Linked DNA regions of Homo sapiens. The protein of the gene in region 1 interacts with the protein of each later gene in a pairwise test. Each region holds a gene or a part of one and is shown on either strand. Other genes may lie near its edges. The genes, in order: NPTX2 and FZD6.

Evidence for each region.
Region 2: the proteins of NPTX2 (region 1) and FZD6 interact in binary tests that used the Homo sapiens proteins (3 or more experiments, as listed by UniProt).

What each region holds. Positions count from the first base shown.
Region 1 is NC_000007.14:98,611,051-98,622,432, reverse strand, and holds the start of NPTX2 (neuronal pentraxin-2 precursor), read right to left. Parts: upstream 5,149-11,382; 5' UTR 4,972-5,148; coding exon 4,546-4,971; intron 2,791-4,545; coding exon 2,574-2,790; intron 1-2,573. UniProt on the Homo sapiens protein: Likely to play role in the modification of cellular properties that underlie long-term plasticity. Binds to agar matrix in a calcium-dependent manner.
Region 2 is NC_000008.11:103,292,753-103,304,017, forward strand, and holds the start of FZD6 (frizzled-6 isoform a precursor), read left to right. Parts: upstream 1-6,145; 5' UTR 6,146-6,243; intron 6,244-7,203; 5' UTR 7,204-7,355; coding exon 7,356-7,532; intron 7,533-11,265. UniProt on the Homo sapiens protein: Receptor for Wnt proteins.

The DNA.
Region 1 (11,382 bases):
TGCTATACTTGCGGGAGGGCAGCCTTGCCAATCTGATACGACTCCGTGTGGGTAATATTGTTAGCTTGGTGACAACAGATAGGTTTAATTAGAGCTGGAAGAGCCGAGGGGCAGAGGAGGGGGCCTGTACCCTGAGAGCCAGTGTCTTTTATTTAAATAAAACAGCTTGGCGGTTTGGAGGAAACTTGGTTAAAACCAATTAAGGAATTAAAAGGCCTGACCAATAAATCAGACACTGCAGGTGGCGGAGAGGCTCAGCAGGGGGTGGGCAGCCTGGGGCTGGAAGAGAGGCAGCTTTGGTTTTCTCAGCAGCAACATTTATTTCAACACTGAGCTGGGCAGTGCCTGGACAGCTGGCCTGGACTCTGGAGGCCCTTGCAGAGGAACAGGTCTTGCAGCAAAGAAAAGCAAGCAACCCTGGGCCCCGGGTGGCAGGGGCATCCATATGCCAGGGGTCAGGCGCTTGCTGGGGGCTCCAAGGAGCCTCCGACGCAGCAGGGCTGGGGCCCACACACCGCTCCAGGCTGCAGCCTCCATCACTCCTCTGGGGCCCCACCAACTTCACTCCCAGCTCTGCAATCTGCTGGCAATGTGAATGCAGGCATCACTTTAGTTCTCTGACTTGAGTCCCTCGTCTGAACTAATCCCTACCTTGCAAGGTCATGTCAGGGATTACAGAATGCCAAGTGTGGAACTCACAGCCAAGCATCTGGTCCCTAAGGGGTGGAGGCTGACAGACCAAAGGCCAGAGTTCCCCCACCAAGGCCCCCTGCCTGTAGTGAGGTTAAGGTCTAGCTACTCTGGGTTCAGCTGGATGTGTCTAAGAAACTTGGCATCGTTTCCAATCATAGTACATGTGGAGGGCTGGGCGTTTACTCATCTCTCTACAATTGTCACAAACAGGACACTCAGAATTGCCCAGAAGACAAACTGGTCTGCAAATGATCACTTTCCTTAAAGCACATCCCAGAGCTGAGTTGGTGGAGCTCACAGAAGGATTCTAGAGTTCCCACGGTGGGATGAAGAGAGGCTGGGCTGCCTCTCTGGGGTGCATAAATGGCCAGCAGCGTCTTTGCCCTCGTAGAGGTGAGCTTCCCCTCTGTGCCAGATGAGCTTTGAGGGCTTGCTGGGAAACTAAAGGGTCAGGAGTCAGGCTGGCGGGGTCTGAGTCCTGACTGTTTCTTTCTGGCTGGTAATGGACAGGCTGGGGATGAAAGGGACAGTCACAAAGTGGCAGCTTCTGGGTGGCCAAAGCCATGATGATGGCTTACCTTAGGAGTAAGCCCAGTGAAATGACATTGGCCTTGAGTGAGAGAAAGAGAAGGAGGAGGTGCAGGTTGATGTGACTGTCACTGTTTGCCAGCTAGTGGCCCAGGACCCACTTTGGGCCCCCTCCCCAAAAGATACATGTCCCACTGAGAACGGAGTCTTTTTCTCATCTATGAAACGGGCATACCAGGAGTCTGAGCTCCCGCCTGGCATGACTGAAGCTCTGGCTCACTATTCTGCTATTTACCCACCTCCTCATGGCAACTTGGCCACTGTGCAGAGGGAGGTTTACAGCCACCAAGGTCTCTCATGGAGCCCTCCTCTCGTTCCACAGTTCCCCTTTCGAGAGGCAAACTACCTTTAGTGTGCCAACTCCATAGCCCTGGGTGTCCCGAGGATCCACTGTGGCTCAGGCTGGGTCCACGGAGCCACGCTCACCTGTGCCTAGACGTTCCCTCCTCCTGTCATGGGAGGAGGGCCACAGCAACGGCTGCTTTACCTTCAGGGATGGCTCCTGAGGCCACCCAGCAACAGAGGGGAGACAGAAAGGAAGATTTTTTGGAAACTCAAGAATCTAACAGATCTAACAGGTAAGCCATACTCACCTTTTTCTGAGAAGGGCCAGGAAGAAAGGATAGGTTTTTCTGTAGGAAGAGACTAGGAAAGGGATGAAAGAGACCTGTGGCTTGTGGATGCTGGCTGTAAAATGGAACAGTAACACCAGCCCCTTCTCCATCTGCCCCACCTCGGCCAAAGTCATTGGATGTTCTGCTATTGGGCATCCTCCTATCAATGCATGAAACGGAGTCATGGGGAAGTGGCTTCATCAGCTTAGTGCATCTGGGAAAATTCCAGTCTTATAAACACCCACTACGGGCAAACCTACAACTTCAAACCCAAGCCACCCAGTGGTTTGGGGGTTGATGACGCAATCTGAATTATCCCCTGATCCCTCCCACTCTGTCTCCTGTGGGAGAAACTTACTCACCACAGTGTGAGCAGAGAAGAGAAAGATACACAGAATCCGCTGCCAGGACTAGTTAACAAAGGACTGAAACGCCCGTGTGGTTGCTTATCGAAGCTGGTCCTGGACACTTTCACTTTTCCCTGGATAATGCCAGTGGGGCTGGCAGCTCATTCCTGAGATGACCTTGTTCAGTCGCCTTTATTATTTGCTCACACACTCGGGAACCAGGCCCATGTGGTGTCACAATCCCTGCTGTCCATCAACCAGAATCGCATGTCTGACCACAAGTGGTGAAAATCAGGCCACTGCCAGACAGAGAAACAGGCCAGGCACACACCTCGCTCCAGCTCGGTGACCCTCTGCAGCAGCGCGTTCAGGGTGCTCTCGGTCTTCTGCCGGTGAGCCGAGGTCTCATTGTGCAGCAGGGACTTCTCGTCCTCCAGCTCTGCCACCTTGCGCAGAAGCTGCCTCTCCAGCTCCCCCAGCCGCTGCTGGAGCACCTCGCGGAAGTCGCCGGGCAGCCCAGCATTGGACACGTTTGCTCTGAGCTGGTGCTTTCAGCCACCGGGGAGGAGGGAGGGGCACAGAAAGAGTTAAAAAGAAATTGTGAAATGTGGCTGTGATGGCCCGACCACACAGGGAGAAGCTTCCAAAACGCAAGCCCTGAATCTTGCCACTGGCAGGCAGGGGAGCATCTCACTGATGCTTTTTTGGTATGGAAAAGATTTCAAAGTCAGATAAGAATTACTTTGCTGCAATATTTGAAACTTGTGAATCTAATTTTCCCTTCTCAAAAAGCCGTTTTTCTCCTCTTACTAAAAAGTCAATATTCTAACCAACGCCTAGAATTCTATGTTGGGTAGAGACCAAAACTCAGCTCCAGGATTTTTTTTCTTTTTTAAGAGTAAATCGATGGTTACACAAAGCCAAGGAGCTTTCACCTAGAAATGAAAACAGCCCCCAAGTTCCGGTCTGGCACCAAGGTAAATAACTATGCATGCAGAGATGTTTCTGGAAAATGACAGATCTAAAACGTTGCTATTCTGAACTCCAGCAATCTTTGTTTTTAATGCTGTTTCTAAATCCTCACTTCCTATTTCTCTTTCTCCCCTACCATCATGTGGTTCTGGAGGCTGTGGCAGGCTGCCTACCCATGAGTTCATGGCAAGCTATTTACCTTTCTCCACAAAGTGTTCCAAATTGTGAAATGCACATAATGGGACCTGCCTCATGCCATTCATTGTTCCAAGGATTAAAAAATTAAATGATGTGCCTGACTCATATTTAGTGCTCCAGAAATGTTAGCTGTTAGCAATCACAATGAATCAGGGGATATACAGATGCTGGAAATACTGTATTCAGCCCTCACGCCAAAAGAAACCCTAGAGTCATTTTTGCAATAATTACCACCTGTAATTTAAACCTAGTTTTGCTGAGAAGTATTTTCACAAAGGCTATTAACAGCAGTGTCCACACTTCTTAAAAAGGGTGGAGCCTAAAGATGAAAAATAATTGAAGATTTTTCTCTCAAAGTTCCAAACTGCACGCATTTTCAGAGATAGAGATGAGACGGAGGCGGGAGCGGGGGGCGGGGGGGGGGGACGGAGGGGGAGGGGGGGAGGGGGGGAGAGAGAGAGAGAGAAGGGAATGAGGTCCCTTCCCCTGAAGCAATCCGGAAGAGCACCTTAAAATGGTCCAACTTGCAGACACGGGAGTCTTTGAAGTTAACCAGAGGTTGCCCCTCTAATGCGCGCTCTGGGGTCGCCGGTGACCCCCTGCGCTCGCCTCCCTGCGACCTCCGCCCCCAGACTTCCGCCCCCTCTAGCTCAGCCTGACCTGATTTAAAGAAAGAAACACCACATGCCCGGGGCAGCTGACCTCCCGCGGCAGCCTCGCAGCAACCCGCACGGCCTGCGGGAGCGCATCCCGGCTCGCGGAGATTTGGAGATTTGCAAGAGGATAGAGGCTACCGCGTCCCCGGGTATTTGGCGCCCGCGGCTTGGCCGTCTGGGTTCGCTAGCCCGGACCTCGGGAAGTGCTCGGCGGATCCCGCTGGCAGTCCCGACGCGCGGGGGTGGAATTTAAACGTTTCCTTCCAGCAAGAGCAGCGGTGTGGGAAGGGATACCACGCAGGGGAGTTCCCGAGCAGGATCTAGATCCCCGCCTTTCACCCTCAAGTCCAGCTCACCCCCACGGACGATCACACCCTCCCCAGGGCCAGGCCCCCTTTCCCCATCCTCCCGAGTCTTCCGCCCCCGACTCGGGAGCGTCCCCATTCCAGGTCCCCCGCGCTCCCCGCGGGCCGCTACCTCGAGGCTCTCCAGGCGGTCCTTGAGGGTCTGCAGCGAGCGGCTGAGCTGCTCCACGACGTGGCCGGGGTCCCGCGGCAGGTCGCCCATAGTGTCCTTGCCCGTGGCCCCCGCGCCGCGCGCCTTGCCGCCCGCCAGCCCCTCGCAGCGCGCTAGCTTGCCCGTGAGCTCGCGGATGGCCTCGCGCTGCGCGCCCAGCGTCTCCTTCTGCTGCACGACGGTCTCGCGCAGCTGCAGCACCGCGGCCCTCAGCTCCTCCTCGGGACTCTGCGCGCCGCCCTGCATGGGCATCGCGGGCAGCGGGCAGCCGGCGTGCACCGCCTCTGGGGGCAGTGCCGTGCACACGAAGCGGCTACCGGGCGCCGGGCTGTCCTGGGCCCCAGCGGCCACGGCGAGCGCCACGCTGGCGGCCAGCAGCGCCAGCATCCCGCCGCCGCTGCCGCGCTCAGCTCGGCATGGGCGAGCGGGCGCCGTCGGGGCGCTCCGCGGGAGGCGCCTTCGCTGCTGGCAGTAGCCGCGCTGTCGTCTCGAGGGTCGCGTGCACCGCGGGGCAGAAGTCTCCTGCCGTCTCACAGCCGCACCCACCGCGCTGCTCGGCACTCTGGCCTGCCGGGTCCGCGCGCCCTTTCTTAAGCTGAGGGGCGGAGGGGGCCGGCGTGTGGGGCGCGCGCCACGAGCTCTGATTGGCTCGGCCGGGTGCGCGTCACGCAGTGGGCGGAGCGGGGCGGGGCGGGGGCGCTTTCCGTTGCGCGCCTGGCGGCCGGGCGGGAGCGTGGGCCGGAGCCTGAGGCGAGAGCGCGAGGTCCCGGGCTCTGCCTCAGGAAAGGAGGCCTGAGGTGGAAAACGACACTGGGGCTCTCGAGAGCCTCGGCTGGCCGTGCCCAGGCGCCCCTCGAACCCACCCGAGGACGCGGGCGTCACAGGCTGAGGAGAAAGTGGGAACCCCTCGGTGTCCCGGTGCCCCTTTCTCAGGGTGGCTTCTGGCGCGGCACGGGGCCTCGCTGCGCGTTTGCCGCCGCCCTCAGGGAGGCGTTTTCTCCAGCAGGAGCAGCCCCCCAGGCGGGACTCGAACCCCGACTGCCATCGCGAGCCACCCCCGCGGCAGGCGTGGGCCTTCTCGTCAAGGCCCGGCCACCTCACTCTCGAGGCGGGAAGGAGCCGCACGACGGCCGCCTCCGGATGCAACGGTCCCCGGGACGCGCTCCATGGCCCCGCCTCCACCCCCCGCGCCAACTCGGAAAACGCTCGGGAAGAATCCCGGGGGCCTCGGGGACCGGGACCAGGACCAGGCGCCGGACGCTGATGGGAAGGAGGGGACACCCGGAGTTAGGGACAAAGTCACGAGGCCACTCGCAGAGCCCTCGCGCGCGTGTTCATCGACTGCCCCCTGGGCGGTGACCTTATTCAGCAAGACCTGAGCTCAGGGGCGGGGTGACATCTAACTGGAGTCATCATGATGGAGCCACGTGGTCCAACAGTGCCCGGTCCTTGTAACCAGGAGGGCCCGCAGTGTCACCACTTCCTCGAAGTGAGGCCACTGCCCTCAGCTTCTTGGAGACAGCAGATATGAGCAGAAACCCCCAAAAGTCAGGAGCAAATTTGTTTCAGAATCTCTCCAAATCTGTGGCTTAAAACAAGTTCAGAGGGATTTTGGTGCACAGCTACAGACTGAGCTGGTTTACTGCACATTTATAAATGGAAATCTTTATTTCTTTTCCTCTCTATGTTTTTAAGAAATCCTGTTGCAAGGTCATTAATCACGTTATCCATTATACCACAAACAAATGGATTTGTCACTTGTGCGCAGAAGCCGAGGTTGATTCTGAAAGCAAATTGTACCAAAATAAATGAAATTATTATGATAATATAAACTAGACTGCAGTGATTAATCTCTAGAAACCAAATTCTGACCTGCTTTGCACTTCAAACAATAGCTTCTATTATGTAAATAGTTGTGGGGTTTTCAAGGACATTATTGCTAAATTATAAGAAAAGTTCTATTCTTGAAAATCTCTTCGTGGATAAAAATGAGAGACAGGAACCTGGTCTGCAAGGTATCCAAAGCAGAGGACAATGGAAGTAATGATGGTTCAGGTAAGAATATTCATTAGCAGAAAAAGGTATGGATGGGAGATTTGGGGTGAGTAATGGGCTCATGTTTCTGTTAGCCTGCATCCCCAGGAGGTGTCAGTTTCACCTTGTTAAGTATGACCTTGACTGGACTCATTCTTCCTACATCCTTTTTCAGCTGGATGAAAACTCGAAAAAGTTCAAATAAACCTACATATGCACAAATTACAATAATGAAGGCAACAGGGTTGCAAAGCACTTTATGCCTTGTTACATTTCAGATGATTCATAAGGCACCAAATCCAGACGTTTTCAAAATTATTCAGATAACGATGTGACTTTTCCATTTTCACTCATAGCTTTGATGTTCCTCTTTACTTGTAGACCTAGGTGGCCCTTAATTGGATGTGACAATAGAGTATTATCGTTCCTGTATTGTTCCATATATCCTTTCTTGACACACAGACTGATACATTCATATTTGCAACTACTTGAAGTAGAAGCTTGTTCCTTTAATAATTAAACAAAATCAAGTATCTTTCCAGAATTCTAATTTCCTCCTGAACAAAGAAAGCAGTGTACAAGAGTAAAAATAGCATATATCCCAATATAATTACTCCTAAACGTCTTAAAAGAGATTCCAGTATGAGAAGTGATCAGTGAAATTGCCAAAGCTCAAATGGAAAGACCCAGACATTTGAAATGTTATTTTCTTTGGAGGCAGTATAATTAGAGGCTTAGTTAACAGAGTACATGCTATTTACAGTTTTATTTTATCTTCCTGGTGCAATGAAAAGCCTGCTGGCTTAGGAATGAGGGATCTAGTGCTAATTCTAACTCTGTCACTAGCTAAGTGGTTTGGGGCAAGTCATTTCTCCTCTGGACTTCAGTTTTCTTGCATATAAGATAAGGGAGGGGCGGGGGTTGGGCACGGTGGTTCACACCTGTAATCCCAGCACTTTGGGAGCCCGAGGCAGGCAGATCACAAGGTCAAGAGATCGAGACCATCCTGGCCAACATGGTGAAACCCCGTCTCTACTAAAAATACAAAATTTAGCTGGGTGTGGTGGCGCCCGCCTGTAGTCCCAGCTACTTGGGAGGCTGAGGCAGGAGAATCGCTTGAACCCAGGAGGCAGAGGTTGCAGTGAGCCAAGATCATGCCACTGCACTCCAGCCTGGTGACAGAGCGTGACTCCATCTCAAAATAATAATAATAATTTTAAAAAGATAAGGGGATTAGACGCAACTGTCTAAAGGTGCTTTGGCTGTACTCAAGAGCATGATAGTTTGAAAAAGAAGGAATCACTGTTGGTGTGAGGAACGTTTCAGAAACTTGTTTTTTCTGTGTGTGTTATTAACCACCTGTAGCCAAAGGTGAATGTGGAAAGGCAGGGTCGTTTTGTAGTACAGCAGGTAAACCTTCATACACGGAGACGCCGTAGTTGTGGTTAAAACCTGCTTTCGACAACACGAAAGCTCATACTGGGTTTACTCACAGCACAACAACTTTGTCTACCTGAAAGATCCTGCATGTATGACTCATGCTACCCATGAGGATGGTTATGTGAGTGGCAGAGACCAGGGCCCACAGATTTTCCTCCACTTGAAAAGTCGTGCAGATCTGCAGCAGTGAATCAGCTCCACCTAATCTCTTAGTGTAACTGATGCTGCAGCATAGTAACCACCCACTCATTCACTATGTCGGCTGGTCCCAGGTCAGCTGTGAGCCCAGTATGGACTTAAACCGTGTGCTGGGAATCCTGATGAGCTCATTCCGCCTCCATTTTATTGCCCCATCTGTTTGGTTCTCTTGTTCTTCTCACATGCATTTTTATCTTGGTCTTCTGGGAAATGTGCTAATTTCCACCATGGTGTGAGAGGATCCCATCTCATACTTTCTTACATTTCCTTCTCTCTTTCTCAGTGCCACTTGGGAAGTCAAGAATGAGAGTGTGAGCTCTAACAGAATCCAAGGACAGCTTCCTGCAAACATGATTCGGGAACTGTCCTCGGTGCTGAATTTCAATTGGAAGGGGGAAATAGACGTGTGTGTGTGTGTGTGTGTGTGTGTGTGTGTAAAGTTCAGTGCAGATAAAATAGAATTTGGAAGCTCCAGAGGATCCCTACTAACACACATTTATGCTTAAAATGCTAAGACGCTTTCAAGAGTGGATTTTTTTCCCCACTAGATTGAACTGCATGGTAGTGTGGAAAGAGCTTGAGCTTTGGAGTCAGACAGCTTTAGTTTCAGTCCCAGTTTTATGACTTGCCACTTTACCTTGAGAGAATGATTTAACCTCTCCCAGCCTCAGTTTTCTCATCTCTAAAATCAAAGCTAAATTTACTACAAAATATTGTTAGGCTTGAGTGAGATAATGTAAGTGAACATGTTTGGCATATAGCCAGTGCACAATAGATGATAATTGTCCTTTTCTTCCCCTTTTCTCCACTGAATTTAGACCTGTATTATGTAAGTCCCTTTAAAAACAAAGTTGAAAAAAATTCTTCCCTTTCTGCAATATTCTTTAGAGTTAAATAAGGCAAGAATACTTAAGAAAGAACAGGCCAGCCTCCCAAGAGGAAAGACAAGGGATGAAAACTTCAGGAAAATATACTGGTGTCTCAGCAAGATAAAGATATACTACTTTGTGGGTTTTTTTTTTTTTAAAAAAAAGATAAAGCATGGTATTATTGAGCTTTAATCAGAGGATTCAGTCAAAGTGAACTGTTTCACACCTACACTTGGGATATATCACCAGACTATGTGCCTGGACCCAACTAAAAAATTTGTAATATTTAACATCTCAGTGATTCTGAATTTGTGTTGCTACGGGACCCAAATAGATATAAGCCCCTCAGATAAAGCAAAATGTTCTTGCTTCAGTGCATCTGTGTTCTTCTTGAATAACATATTTCTGGCTAAATTTTGGGAGCATGTGAGATGAGACACTGAGTTTCAGGAAGTGGTGTCCCTGTACAAGTATATTATCACATTTAGCTAGAGAGCCGTGATTTAGGGGAATTGGTTGTTCATATTACTCAACTGATTTCAACAAACCAAAAAAGGCTTTTGGTGGCATCCTCTGATTTCAAGCAATAGAACGAGTCACCGGATATACCAGGGATAATGTCTTACCTCAGTTTTTAAAAGTAAGGGATAATAGACTGGGAGTGGGAGGAGGCTGAAGGAAGGAACATCATCAACTTAGTTTGCTTTGAGAAAATCTTCTATGAATGTAGTCTCAATTTCTCTATATTAGGAAACACCAAGAAAGTGCCCCACTTTCACATAACTTACAAGTGGTGAAATTGGCCTATTTCTGATAAAGACATGTGGCTCAATATCTCTGTATGATTCAGGCACACAGGTAGCTTGTATGAATCTTTGAAAGTGAGAGTTTGAAGATATTTTATAGAATTTTGAAGACTAGGAAACAGTTTGAGAAAGGTTAAAATGTCATATGGCAGCTAGATAGGAAGACTAGGTTCTGGTGTTCTACAGCACTGTAGGGTGAGTATAGCTAACAATAGTTTATTATATATTCTCAAATAGCTAGAAGAGAGGATTTTGAATGTACCCAACACAAAGAAATGATAAATGTTTGAGGTGATTGATATGCTAATTACCCTGATTTGATCATTATACATTGTATGCATGCATTGAAATATCACTCTGTGTCCTATAGATATGTACAATTATTACATGTCAATTAAAATTATGTTAAAGTAAAGACTTCCCCTCCCCACAAAATAAGTTCAAAACCATGCTAAAAAGATCATAGGGCTACTTAACAGCAGGGCCATGCTGGAACTCAGGCCCTCTGGTTTCCAGTAAGGGCTCTTTTCTCTGTATCACTCCCTAACATACTCATTAACCTATTAGAATGCTTGGTTTCTTCTTCAATAACTGCTTTCTTAAAAATCAATAATTTGCCATTAATTTCAATGTCCCCTTTTCTGTCATTCTCCTGGAACTCATCAGCATTGAACACTGTTGGCTAAGTCTTTTTTATTAGAATTTTCCAACATTGGTTTCTATGATATTGTATTCTTCTGGTTTTCTTCTTTGATTTCTGAACATTTTTTCCTTTCTTTCTTCTTTTCTGGACCTTCTTTCATTACCTGCCTCCTCAACACACATATTCAAAGTTGAACTGTCCATAGCTCTCTCCTTTCTCTCACTGTACTCTCTACCTTAACAGTTTGAAGTTTTTAAGTTATATTAATGATTCTGTCTTAGTTCATTTTCTGCTTCTATGACAGAATACCACAGGCTCAGTAACTTGTAAATAAAAGAAGTTTATTTGGCTCATAGTTCTGGAGGCTGGCAAGTCCAAGAGCATGGTGCTGGTATCTGGTCCATAGTGGAAAGGTGGAGGGCAGAAGCAAGTGCATATATCTGAGAACTACCAAGGGCTGGGCTTGCTTTTATAACCACCCACTCTAGTGATAATTGACCCACTCCTAAGATGATTGCAATAGTCCATTCATGAGGGCTCCCTCCTCATGACCCAGTTAATCCATACTTGGTCCCACCTCCCAAAACTGTTGCTTTGGGGGTTAAGTTTTTAACACATTAACTTTTTAAATTTTAACTTTAAGTTCTGATATACATGTGCCAGATGTGCAGGTTTGTTACATAGGTAAACGTAATACAGGAATTTTGAGGGACACAAACCGTAGCAGAAACTATCTATACTGAGTTCCAGATTATAATAAACCAACCGCATGTTGGACATCTCAAAGATAAACTACCCATACTTCTAA
Region 2 (11,265 bases), on another chromosome or scaffold:
AGGGATCTAGAACTAGAAATACCATTTGACCCAGCCATCCCATTACTGGGTATATACCCAAAGGATTATAAATCATGCTGCTATAAAGACACATGCACACGTATGTTTATTGCGGCACTATTCACAATAGCAAAGACTTGGAACCAACCCAAATGTCCAACAATGATAGACTGGATTAAGAAAATGTGGCACATATACACCATGGAATACTATGCAGCCATAAAAAATGATGAGTTCATGTCCTTTGTAGGGACATGGATGAAATTGGAAATCATCATTCTCAGTAAACTATCACAAGAACAAAAAACCAAACACTGCATATTCTCACTCATAGGTGGGAATTGAACAATGAGAACACATGGACACAGGAAGGGGAACATCACACTCTGGGGACTGTTGTGGGGTGGGGGGAGGGGGGAGGGATAGCTTTAGGAGATATACCTAATGCTAAATGACGAGTTAATGGGTGCAGCACACCAGCATGACACATGTATACATATGTAACTAACCTGCACATTGTGCACATGTACCCTAAAACTTAAAGTATCAAAAAAAAAAAAATCAGAGTTATTAGCAGCCCATGAACCACAATTGGTATAAAGTTACTTCTGCACATCAAAGAAAATTAATTTAGCTATTGTCTAAATTACTAAATTGGGGCAAAAAGCCCTTTTCTAGATGCTACAAGCTTTATAAAGGGAAAATACTATTTCTAATATTCGACTTAACATGGCTGCTTTGGTTAAAAAAAGGATAACATATTAAATATTTAAAATGACCAGATGGTAGGTTTGAATCCACTGAAAACAAACCCAGCAGGGCAAACTCACAGGCACAAAATGTAACTCAAAGCATTAATAGAGCTGAGGCTGTTTTTCTTTAGCATTATGAATCTCTTATTTGCAATGACTATACCAGAGCTCCAAAGAGGCAGTCTTATACATCAAACTGTCATTAAAATATGTGGCTCTTTCCTGCAGTGTCATGTTACTACTGCACTGAAAATTTTATTTTTCCAGTAACACTGGAGGTAGTAATTAGAAGGTCTATTATTTCTGGCCAACCATAATGGATACAACCATAATGGACACAACCCAAAGGTTAATTGCTGTGCTACAAACACTGCAGCAATTAGCTTTCAGAGTAGGGAGTGACAGGGAATGTATTTCAAGTGAAAGTTAGTTTTTAAATAGAAACTATCCTCTACGTCATGCGCATAAACTTCCCTAAATTAAGTCAGTGCATGATCAAATTCACAATGTTACATGGAGGGAGTGAAGCCATGATAGAGCTTTCAAGGGTTAGGGAAAGAAGTATTAGGGAGAGAACTTCATGAGGGAAGGGGTTCATACCACTGGAAGTTCTAACTGCTTCCTCCCAAGTTCCTCTTTGCTTCTGTACTCTTCTATGCCTCTGCTCAGCCCAGCCTCCTCCAGCTGGGGTCCCTCTACTGCTGTTTGTTCCTCAAACTGCTAATGTCTCAGCATCAGGTCAGTGGCCACAAGCCGGCCTATCCCCCAGTATGTGTACAGGGCCCAGGCAGGAGTACAAAGGAGGACACCATGCTATATGTCTACATAGCTAAAATTCATATATCAAACTAACAAACTGCTACTTGAAATATGTTCTATCCTCCTACCTTGAAAAAATGTACCTTTATAAAGACAGAAATGTTTTTAATGTGTAAAGCTATGTTTTAATGAGTAGGCAAAATATCAAAAGTAGATAAATTCAATTATTATGGCACGTGTTTGCATAGTCCGGTGATAGGCTGGAGATGTTTGGGTAAGTAATTAAATAAAAACTTACACAGTTTACAAGTTACATATTTACCCCTGTGAAATTTACTTTCTTCCCTTCATTTTAGCAAAATCCCTTAATTATATTGTCATAATAAAAATTTTCATATAGTCAGTCTTCTATGAATACTAATGCCAAATTACATAACTTTTCTGAATTATTGCAGCTCTTGGGATTTTTCAACTCGATTTTAACTTGGAGAAACTTTGCTCTGCTAAGGCAGTAGCAACTGGAATTATCAATAAAATTCTTAAAGTCATACCTATTTTTAAAAATGAGAAATTAAGGTTTGTAGTGTGGCATGTAAGGAGCTTAGCTGTTACTCTGTCCTGACAAAAAGTAGAAAGTTGAACAAACTGAAAATCAACAACTCTTCCTAGATCTAGCAGAGAAGTAAGGACACAGAGCAAGCCACTGCCCCCAAAGTTGGAGAGACAAACAGGCAGATACACAGAATCACAATTTACTAGAGCAGAAACCCGCCGGCAGAAACCTCCAGGGGCATGAGTACAGGGTAGGAAGACCAGAACTGTAACTGATGAATTGCTAGAGGCTCAGGGTGGTCAAGACTAAGAATTTAAAACTCCAGGGGGTCAGCTGGGCACGGTGGCTCACGCCTGTAATCCCAGCACTTTGGGAGGCCTAGGCAGGGAGATCACGAGGTCAGGAGACAGAGACCATCCTGGCCAATACGGTGAAACCCCGTCTCTACTAAAAATACAAAAATTAGCTGGGCATGGTGGTGTGCACCTATAATCCCAGCTACTCGGGAGGGTGAGGTGGGAGAACCATTTGAACCCAGGAGGCGGAGGTTGCAGTGAGCCAAGATCACGCCACTGCACTCCAGCCTGGCAACAGAGTGAGACACACACACACACAAACACACACACACACACACACACACACACACACACAAAGGGGGAGGGGGCCTAGTCTTTGGAGGGCACACTCACACTTTTGTAAGTTTTACCTCCAGGAGTTCTTCCAGGTTCTCTCAGTGAAAATCAAAGAAAAATCACCTCCTACATCCAACAGGGAGAGGTGAAAAGAACCATTTTGAAATATGTCAAAATATTCTGTTCTTTTTAACAAGGCCTGCCCTCAAGAGAAACTACCAGAGCCTAACCTATTACAGTTTTAGCAGAGCCTAACCAAGCTGATAGATGGGAAATATCCAACCCCAGCCCCCTCTAGACATCCTGTCCCACCCAAGAAGGGGGATAAAAACTAAGAAGCACTTGTGAAGTTTCCAGCCTAGGGACACAAGCTCACTAAGACTGAAATCTAATCATAGGTCTATAGAATGTTTCCCCTCCTCCCACATCTTAACACCGCATCACTGAAGCCCATTTACTCCAGTGCCTTTCACCCAGTGCATCATGTCCAGCTTTCAACTAAAAATTACAAGGCACACTACAGAGCAAAAAACACAGTTTGAAGAGGCAAAGCAATCATCAGAACTAGACTCACATACGGCAGAGATGTTGGAATTATCAGACCAGGAACTTCAAATAACTGTGATTAATATACTAAGGGTTGTAAAGGTAAACGTAGACAACTTGAAAGAACAGACGGTTAATGTAAGCAGAAATGAAAATTTTAAGGAAGAATAAGAATTGCTAGAGATATAAAATTCTATAACAGAAATGAAGCATGCCTTTGATGGATTCATTAATAGACTGGACATGGTTGAGAAAAGAATCTCTGAGTTTGAGGATATGTCAATGGAAACTTCCAAAATTGAAAAATAAAGAGAAAAAGGACTTAAAAAAAAGAAACAATATCCAAGAACTGTGAAACAACTACAAAAGTATAACATATGTGTAACAGGAATACCAGGAGAAGAATTAGAGAAAGGAACAGAAGAAATATTTGAAGCAATAGTGACTGAAAATTTCCCCAAATTAATGTCAGTCACCAACAATGTTAGACCAACTCTCTAAAATCTCTTCCAGAAGATAGAAGCAGGGGGAATACTTCCTAGCAGCATTGCCCTAATACCAAAACCAGACAAAAACATTACTAGCAAAGAAAACTATAAACCAATATATCTCTTGAACAAAGATGTAAAAATCCTCAACAAAATATTAGCTAGTAGAATCCAGCAATGCATAAAAAGAATTGTACAGCATAACCAAGATTTATCCCAGGTATGCAAGGCTGGTCCAATATTTGAAAATTCATTCATGTAATCTACCATACCAATAGACTAAAGAAGAAAAATCACATGACCACATCAATAGATGCAGAAAATGCATTTGACAAAATCCAGCACATTTTCATCATAAAAACTTTCAGCAAACTAGGGACAGAGGGGGAACTTTCTCACTTGCTAAAGAACATCTACAAAAACCCTAAGGTAACAATATACTTAATGATGAGGAGCTTACCTATAGAGGAACAAAAATAAAGAATGACATCCAACTTCTCAGAAACCACGTAGACAAGAAGAGAGGTGGAGTAAAAGTGTTCAGAGAAAAAAACTACCAACCTATAATTCTGTACCTTGCAAAATTAGCCTTTAAAAGTAAAAGTCTGTTTCTTCTACTTTTGGTCACCACTGTCCCCTAGCATCAGCCCAGAGGAACAATGCAAAGAGAAAGAGAAGGAAAATGAGGAAAACCGTCAGATAGTTCCATATTTACAGATGAAGAAACTAAAGAGGATCTGAATAATTTGCTCAAGTTCACACAGCAAGTAAATGCTGGAGCTAGGTTTTGAACCCAGGGATTTTGAACTCCAAAGTTTGTGTTCTTAATCTCGTACCATTGGGATGAAATTGTACAGTGAAAGACAAGCGATGATATAGATGATTGCCTAAGTATTCCAAATCCATCCTGACAAAAAAAAAATCATTCTAGTTCATCACTGCTCACTATATAATTAAATACAATGAAAAATAAAACAGGCTTTATTTACTTCTGTATAAATCAACTTACTACAATTTTTCCTTCCAAATAATGGAACAAGTATTCACTTGAATTTCAAAACTATCGTTTTCAAATGATACTTTAAAAGTATCGTTTTCAAACGATATTTTAAAAAGTATCGTTTTTAAATGATACTTTTAGTGATACTTCACTGCCTGGTAGTCACTAGAGCCTGATCACAAAAAGATCTCATTAAGTTCGTAGAAACTGGAGAGAAATAGTCTTCCAATGTAGAAAATTAGAAATTTAGGGGAAAATATTCTTCCTACATAGAAATTTATTCTGCAATACATCAACTATCCAGCTCTTAATGATGTTAATATTTCTTCATCACTACCTGTCTCCCAACATCAGTAAGCTTTTGATAAAACTGGGGAGGAATTCCCCACTCCAAATTCGTCTTTCCCCACAGATTCCAAAACTCTTACTCTGGTTGTTCAGGGTTGTCCTTCTAGGTATGGAAATATGACATTCCTTTTCTGCAACAGGATGATTTATCTGACAAGAATAGCCTCCATCTACAAGTTACTTTGCATTTTTCAAAGTACTTCTACAAGTTCATTTGCTTCTCATACTATTCTGCCTGTTTCATAGGAGGGCCTTACAGGTTAGGTGTAAACACTTGTAACGAACTTGGCACTATTTGACTTACAGCCAGTGCTCAATTAACGTTAACCATCATTACAACTATTGTCATTCCTATATTGTGAGGAAACTATGCCCCTTAAAGATTAGGGTAATTTATCTAATATCTATGACAGAGTTGGTACCCCAAACTAGGTTGATTTCTACAGCAGTTCAACTTCCTATTAGGGTTTGTATCAATAAAACTGTGGGACCCGCCAGGGCTGGAATCCCACTGCTACCTGAGCATCCAGTTGGTGACCAGGCTCCCCGAATTAATAAAAGTATTTGTTGTTGTTTTTATAGCAGTTGTCCAGGAAGTATCTCCTTTCGAACTCAAGTCACTTGGGCAATTGGCTTTACAAAGCAAATTGGCTCCGTTTAAGGATTCTTGACTCCTGAAATCCGCAAGGAAGTGGGTTCTTTTAGAGCCAGCGCCAAGAGCTTCAAAAAATCCTTCTAAGGTGAACCCCTCCGGACCCGGATAGCGAGATGGGGCTCAGCCTTGCGCCTCGGGGGTCGTAACAGACGGCAAGGTGGAGGTGGCTTCCCGGCCCCGCAGCCGGACCTCGGCACCCCGAGCCCGTTCACCGGGGCCGGGTCCTGGCGGGCCGCGGAGTGAGGCCGGGCGGCGCAGCGCAGGCGGTGCCCGGGCGCAGGGCCAGTCCCGCCGCCGCCGCCGCCGCCGCCGCCGCCGCCGCCGCGAGCCCGGACCTGCCCGCCCGACCTGGCGGCGCAGTCTCGCGGGATCGCTCAGCTCTCGCTCCCCGTGCGGCTCTCGAGGCAGCTCCAGTCCCGGACGCAACCCCGGAGCCGTCTCAGGTCCCTGGGGGGAACGGTGGGTTAGACGGGGACGGGAAGGGACAGCGGCCTTCGACCGCCCCCCGAGGTGAGGCTTCCACGGCTGGGACTGGGCAGGGGCCGGGCGGGTGCCGGGGGAAGCGGGGAGGGCCTCGAGGGGCGAGGGGCCGCGGCTGGGATGAGGCGCGCCGGGAGCCGCAGGTGCTGGGGAGGCAACGGCGGGACGGCCCGCACCTGAGTTTCCTCGGAAGCGGGAACCGGCTCTGAAAGGCGATGCCGGGGCCCCGCGGCGCCGCGCAGGCCAGGAACGCTGCTGTCTGGCTCTAGGCCTGGGGCAGGTTCCCGGGTGTGGGGCGCTGGCGGACCGGGCATCAGTGTGTGTTGGGGCGCGGGTAATTCGTAATCCGGGGCCTACAGCCTTCCTCCCGCAAGGGGACTGCCTTCGCCCTTCCCCCGGGACAGATTTGCGCACTTTCCTTTCGACGGCAGCACTACACCCTCCTAGCCAGTGAAAACTGCAATGTTGCTCCTCCACTGGAGGAATCCTAAAAGTCTCCCTCTAGTTGGCCTTACGAAAATCGAGAAAACTACATACCCAGAAGACTGCCACAAAAACTGACTCTTCAGAGTCTTTTACAAGTTTAAGAACTCTTTGGGTCTTAAGGAATTTCCCAGGGCCTTAGTTTTCTTGTACTTAATAAGCTTTCCAACAGGGGCCCTTAGATTGTATGCTTATATTAATCCTTTATAATTTACTCCGAATCACCAGCTTTCCTTTTTTCCTCCATCTTACTCTTGCCATTCCCTCTTTTTAACCCTGTCTTCCATACAGCACCAACCTCCTAGCATCGGTTTCCTAGAGGTGCAGCTTCCTTAGCAAATGATATATTCCATGCTAAGGCAGGTGGAAGAGTATCTCGTTAGGACAGAATTTTCCGTTGTTTTTCCAGTGTTTGTTACCTGGGGTGAAAATCTTAACTCTGCACTTTGACTCCACATTTGAGTTTATGACAAATGTTGCTGATACACCCTCCTTTTGTTTTTACAGTAATTGACCCAGGACTCATTTTCAGGAAAGCCTGAAAATGAGTAAAATAGTGAAATGAGGAATTTGAACATTTTATCTTTGGATGGGGATCTTCTGAGGATGCAAAGAGTGATTCATCCAAGCCATGTGGTAAAATCAGGAATTTGAAGAAAATGGAAATGTTTACATTTTTGTTGACGTGTATTTTTCTACCCCTCCTAAGAGGGCACAGTCTCTTCACCTGTGAACCAATTACTGTTCCCAGATGTATGAAAATGGCCTACAACATGACGTTTTTCCCTAATCTGATGGGTCATTATGACCAGAGTATTGCCGCGGTGGAAATGGAGGTGAGTAGTGCTTCATACGTTTATTGAATAGTAGTTTATGCTCTGTTCTAGAATAAACTAGTAAAAATAAGTCTATTTTTAAACAGAGCCGATTTCTTCAAGTTGTGTACAAGTTGTGTTTTGAAAAGTCCTTTTGAAAATTAAATCCCTCTACTGACTTATGTTTTGTGTACCTTTGCGGCCCTGTTTAGTAGATTCGTTTGAATAGGGTTCATTTTATATAATGAAGTATGGTTACACATGATTTCTAAATACCTTGTACCTAGAAAATATTTTGCTTTCCTGAATCAAGTATGATAGTTCTTCTAGAAATGCGAATTCTGAATATTTTTCTACTTCACTGAACATGTAATATTTATTGCCTGGACTAAAACTGAAGAAATTTACAAGTTTTTATAAGTAGTTGTAATATTCACTTGGTACAGTTTTTCTGAAATAAATAAATTATCAGAATATTTTGTTGCTGTAGACTGTATTTTAAGGCTATCACAAAGTCACTAAAAAGTGACTTTGTTTTCTAAGCATAGCACTTATATGTTCTTTATAAGATACTTGTTAAAAGAAACCACTTGGGAGGAGTACAGTGACACTAAAGATTGCCTTAGGTGCCTTAGTTACCTGTCTCTGGTTTAGAGATATGCAAATTACTAGGGAGTGTGAGAAGAAAGCTACCTGTACAGACAGGAACCTGCCTTCCCATACAGATTTGTTAGGTTGTTAAGTCTCCTGAAGGAAACTAGACACATGCATTGTTTTTGTAGTTTTTCTCCAGAAAAACAGAATAGTAAAGGCTTTTTTCCCTCAGATTGTTGCTAAGAGAGGAAATCCCTACAAATTTAATATATATACTATTTTTAAAATTGATTAGATTTGATTTTGCAGCTTTGAAAGTTTTCTATTGTTGTTCAGTTGAATAGTTGTCTGACTGCCTCATTGTGGACTCATGTCTGGAATAGGAAAGCTTATAAATACTAAGTAGATGTTATTTAAAAGGATAGTACAGATTATATTATTGTTATCTTTCAGTGGTTTTTTTCAAACTGATGCTAGATGTCCTTTTGAACTGAACAAATGATGCACTGAGACTTTCATGAATCAGAACCATTTTGATGGTTCAATCTGATTCAATATGAAGTATATAGTGAGAACACTGTGAAGCAATAATTACATCATTCATTCACTTTTTTGCTGATGATAATATGTTTTGTAGTGTTCATGTTTTAATAGTGTTCCTAAATTTTTTAAATCTAATTTCCTTTGTATGTGGTAACTACATACATTTTAAGGTTTTTGTTTTTTCTTTTAGAGATGGGGTCTTACTATGTTGCCCAGGCTGGTCTCAAACTCCTAGGCTCAAGTGATCCGTCCTGCCTCAGCATCCCAAAGTGCTAGGATTACAGGCGCGAGCTACTGCACCTGGCTGACCATTTTAAGTTTGAATGCTAACAGTGACCTTATAAATTCATATCACCTAGACTCAAGAGAGATGCATCCCTGCTATTAAATGCCTGTAATTATAAGATGGTAGCAACTAGCTTTGTTCTGCACGTCTTTTTAAAACCAAATTTTTTTTACTTTCAAAAAAATTACTTTTTAATTTACCTAGCTTCTTTCCCAAGTAGTTTTGTGCCTGGATATTATCAAGAAGGCTTTTTGTTCTTACCTCTTTTATATGATTGCTAATACTACCAATCTCTTCATTATATAATTTTCCACTTATAACTAACCTTTCTCATAGCCTTTACTAATGAAGTTTTTTTTTTTGCTATAAATCATACTTCAGTAAATTTAAGGATACAAAAGAAGAGAGCCATCAAGCAGTCACAATACCAGCATTAACCTAAGTCTATAGAAGAAAGGAAAGAGAAATGAAAAGGCAAAAATAATGTCACCCTGGCTCAGACTTTTAATCCCTATATGTAATTTCTCAGTGTATACTATTGTGTTTTTCCTACTGCCCCTTTCCTATTTATCCATATACAGTAGTATTCTCTTTTAGTTCCTGTATTTGAATGTCCAAAATCCTATAAGTTGAGAGTTGTAAGTGACCCTAAAGATCATATAGAGCTTCTTAACCTTTTTTATGACATTAACCCCTTCTCAAGATAAGAGAAGTTTTAATATTTAAATAAATAAAATGTGTAGGATTACAAAGAAAACAAATTATATTGAAATATAGCTCAGGTAAAGAACCCCCGAACCCTTCATTATACAGATGAAGAAACTGAAACCCAGAAAAGCTGCGATTTGTCCCTTTGAGCACTCTAATCTGATAGTCTTCTCTGTCTACATGGACCATAATGTCATCTTTAACTGGTTTTTTTTTAGGCCCTTGTCCTGATTGGATAAACAAGATAATATTTCTTATGATTTAGAATGCAATGTGTAAATTTCAGACTTTGCTACTTATTTGCAAACTTCATTTAGATAAAAATTAAACTGGGTGATTGTTTTACCTCTGTTTAGCTCTGTCTCTCTTTTTCCTTCTTACAAGTGCCTTGAATACAAAGTCTTGTTAGACCAAAAATAAAATCTCTGTGGCGCACACCTGTAGTCCCATCTACTCTGGAGGCTGAGGTGGGAGGATCACTTAAGCCCAAGAGTTGGAGGCTGCAGTGAGCTATGATCGTTCCACTGCACTCCAGTCTGGGCAACAGAGTGAGACTTCAACTCAACAAAACAAAATGAAAACAACAAAAACAAAGCAAAAGTTAACTCCCTAATCTTCAGTCTCTCTAGTGGTGCCACAATGATTTTATTATAATTCAAATTTGTGCAGTCCACTTTAGGGTTAAAATCCTTCATCATTTTCCCTAAAGCTGGGGAAAAAAAGACCTGGTTCTAGAGCACTCCAGGCCCTTCATGTGGGACCCTGGCTGCTTGTCCAGTCTCTCATCTTGTACCTTCCCACATTGCACACTCTGCTTCAGCCAACTGACCTATTTGGAGAATTCAAATCCATATTACTGTCCATCACCTCTGTATCTTTACACACACTCTATCCTCTGGTGAGCCGTCTGTCTACCTACCTTTCTTCACCTGCTCAATTCCTTCAGTTCTCAGTTAAAGCAATAACTGTTTTTAGCGAACCCTTCTTTCACCTTTCTCCTGAGCAAATTTAATCACCCCACTCTACACCCTTACAGTACTTATAATGTACAGTTGTTCTTATGCTATTTTACAGTGAATCTACATGTCTCTAGATTGAGAGTTTGTTGAAGGTAGGGATGGTGTTTTTTTTTCATCTGTATCCCTAATACTAAGTACAATGCCTCTGAGCATGGTAGAGGCTACATAAAAGCTAAATAAAGAAAAAGGTAGGATTTTATGTCCCAATAAGGTAGCAAAGGGAATTTTCCCTCCAAATCTTTACATTCCACTTCTATCATCTACAGTGTCCAAGTCAAAGACATACTAATATTTTTAGGTGGTTTACATATCATTCTTTTTCATTCTGTCTGAGCCTAGCTGTAATGAAATATATCAGTTGACATCCTCTATTTTGTTTCCCACATTAGCTCTACACATATTCATTAGAATTTGCTTAAAGAATTTGATTTTTAACCATTTCTAGTTATTTATATGAAGTAAAGGAATTCAACTTTTGATCGGACCGTTGGATTATAAGCTATATGAGTCAGTTTTTTTTTTTTCAAACATTGTACTTTAGTCCTTAAGTGTATATTCCAGTTGAGTACTAAATTATAGCTGCTTGTAACTTGGCTTTTACTAA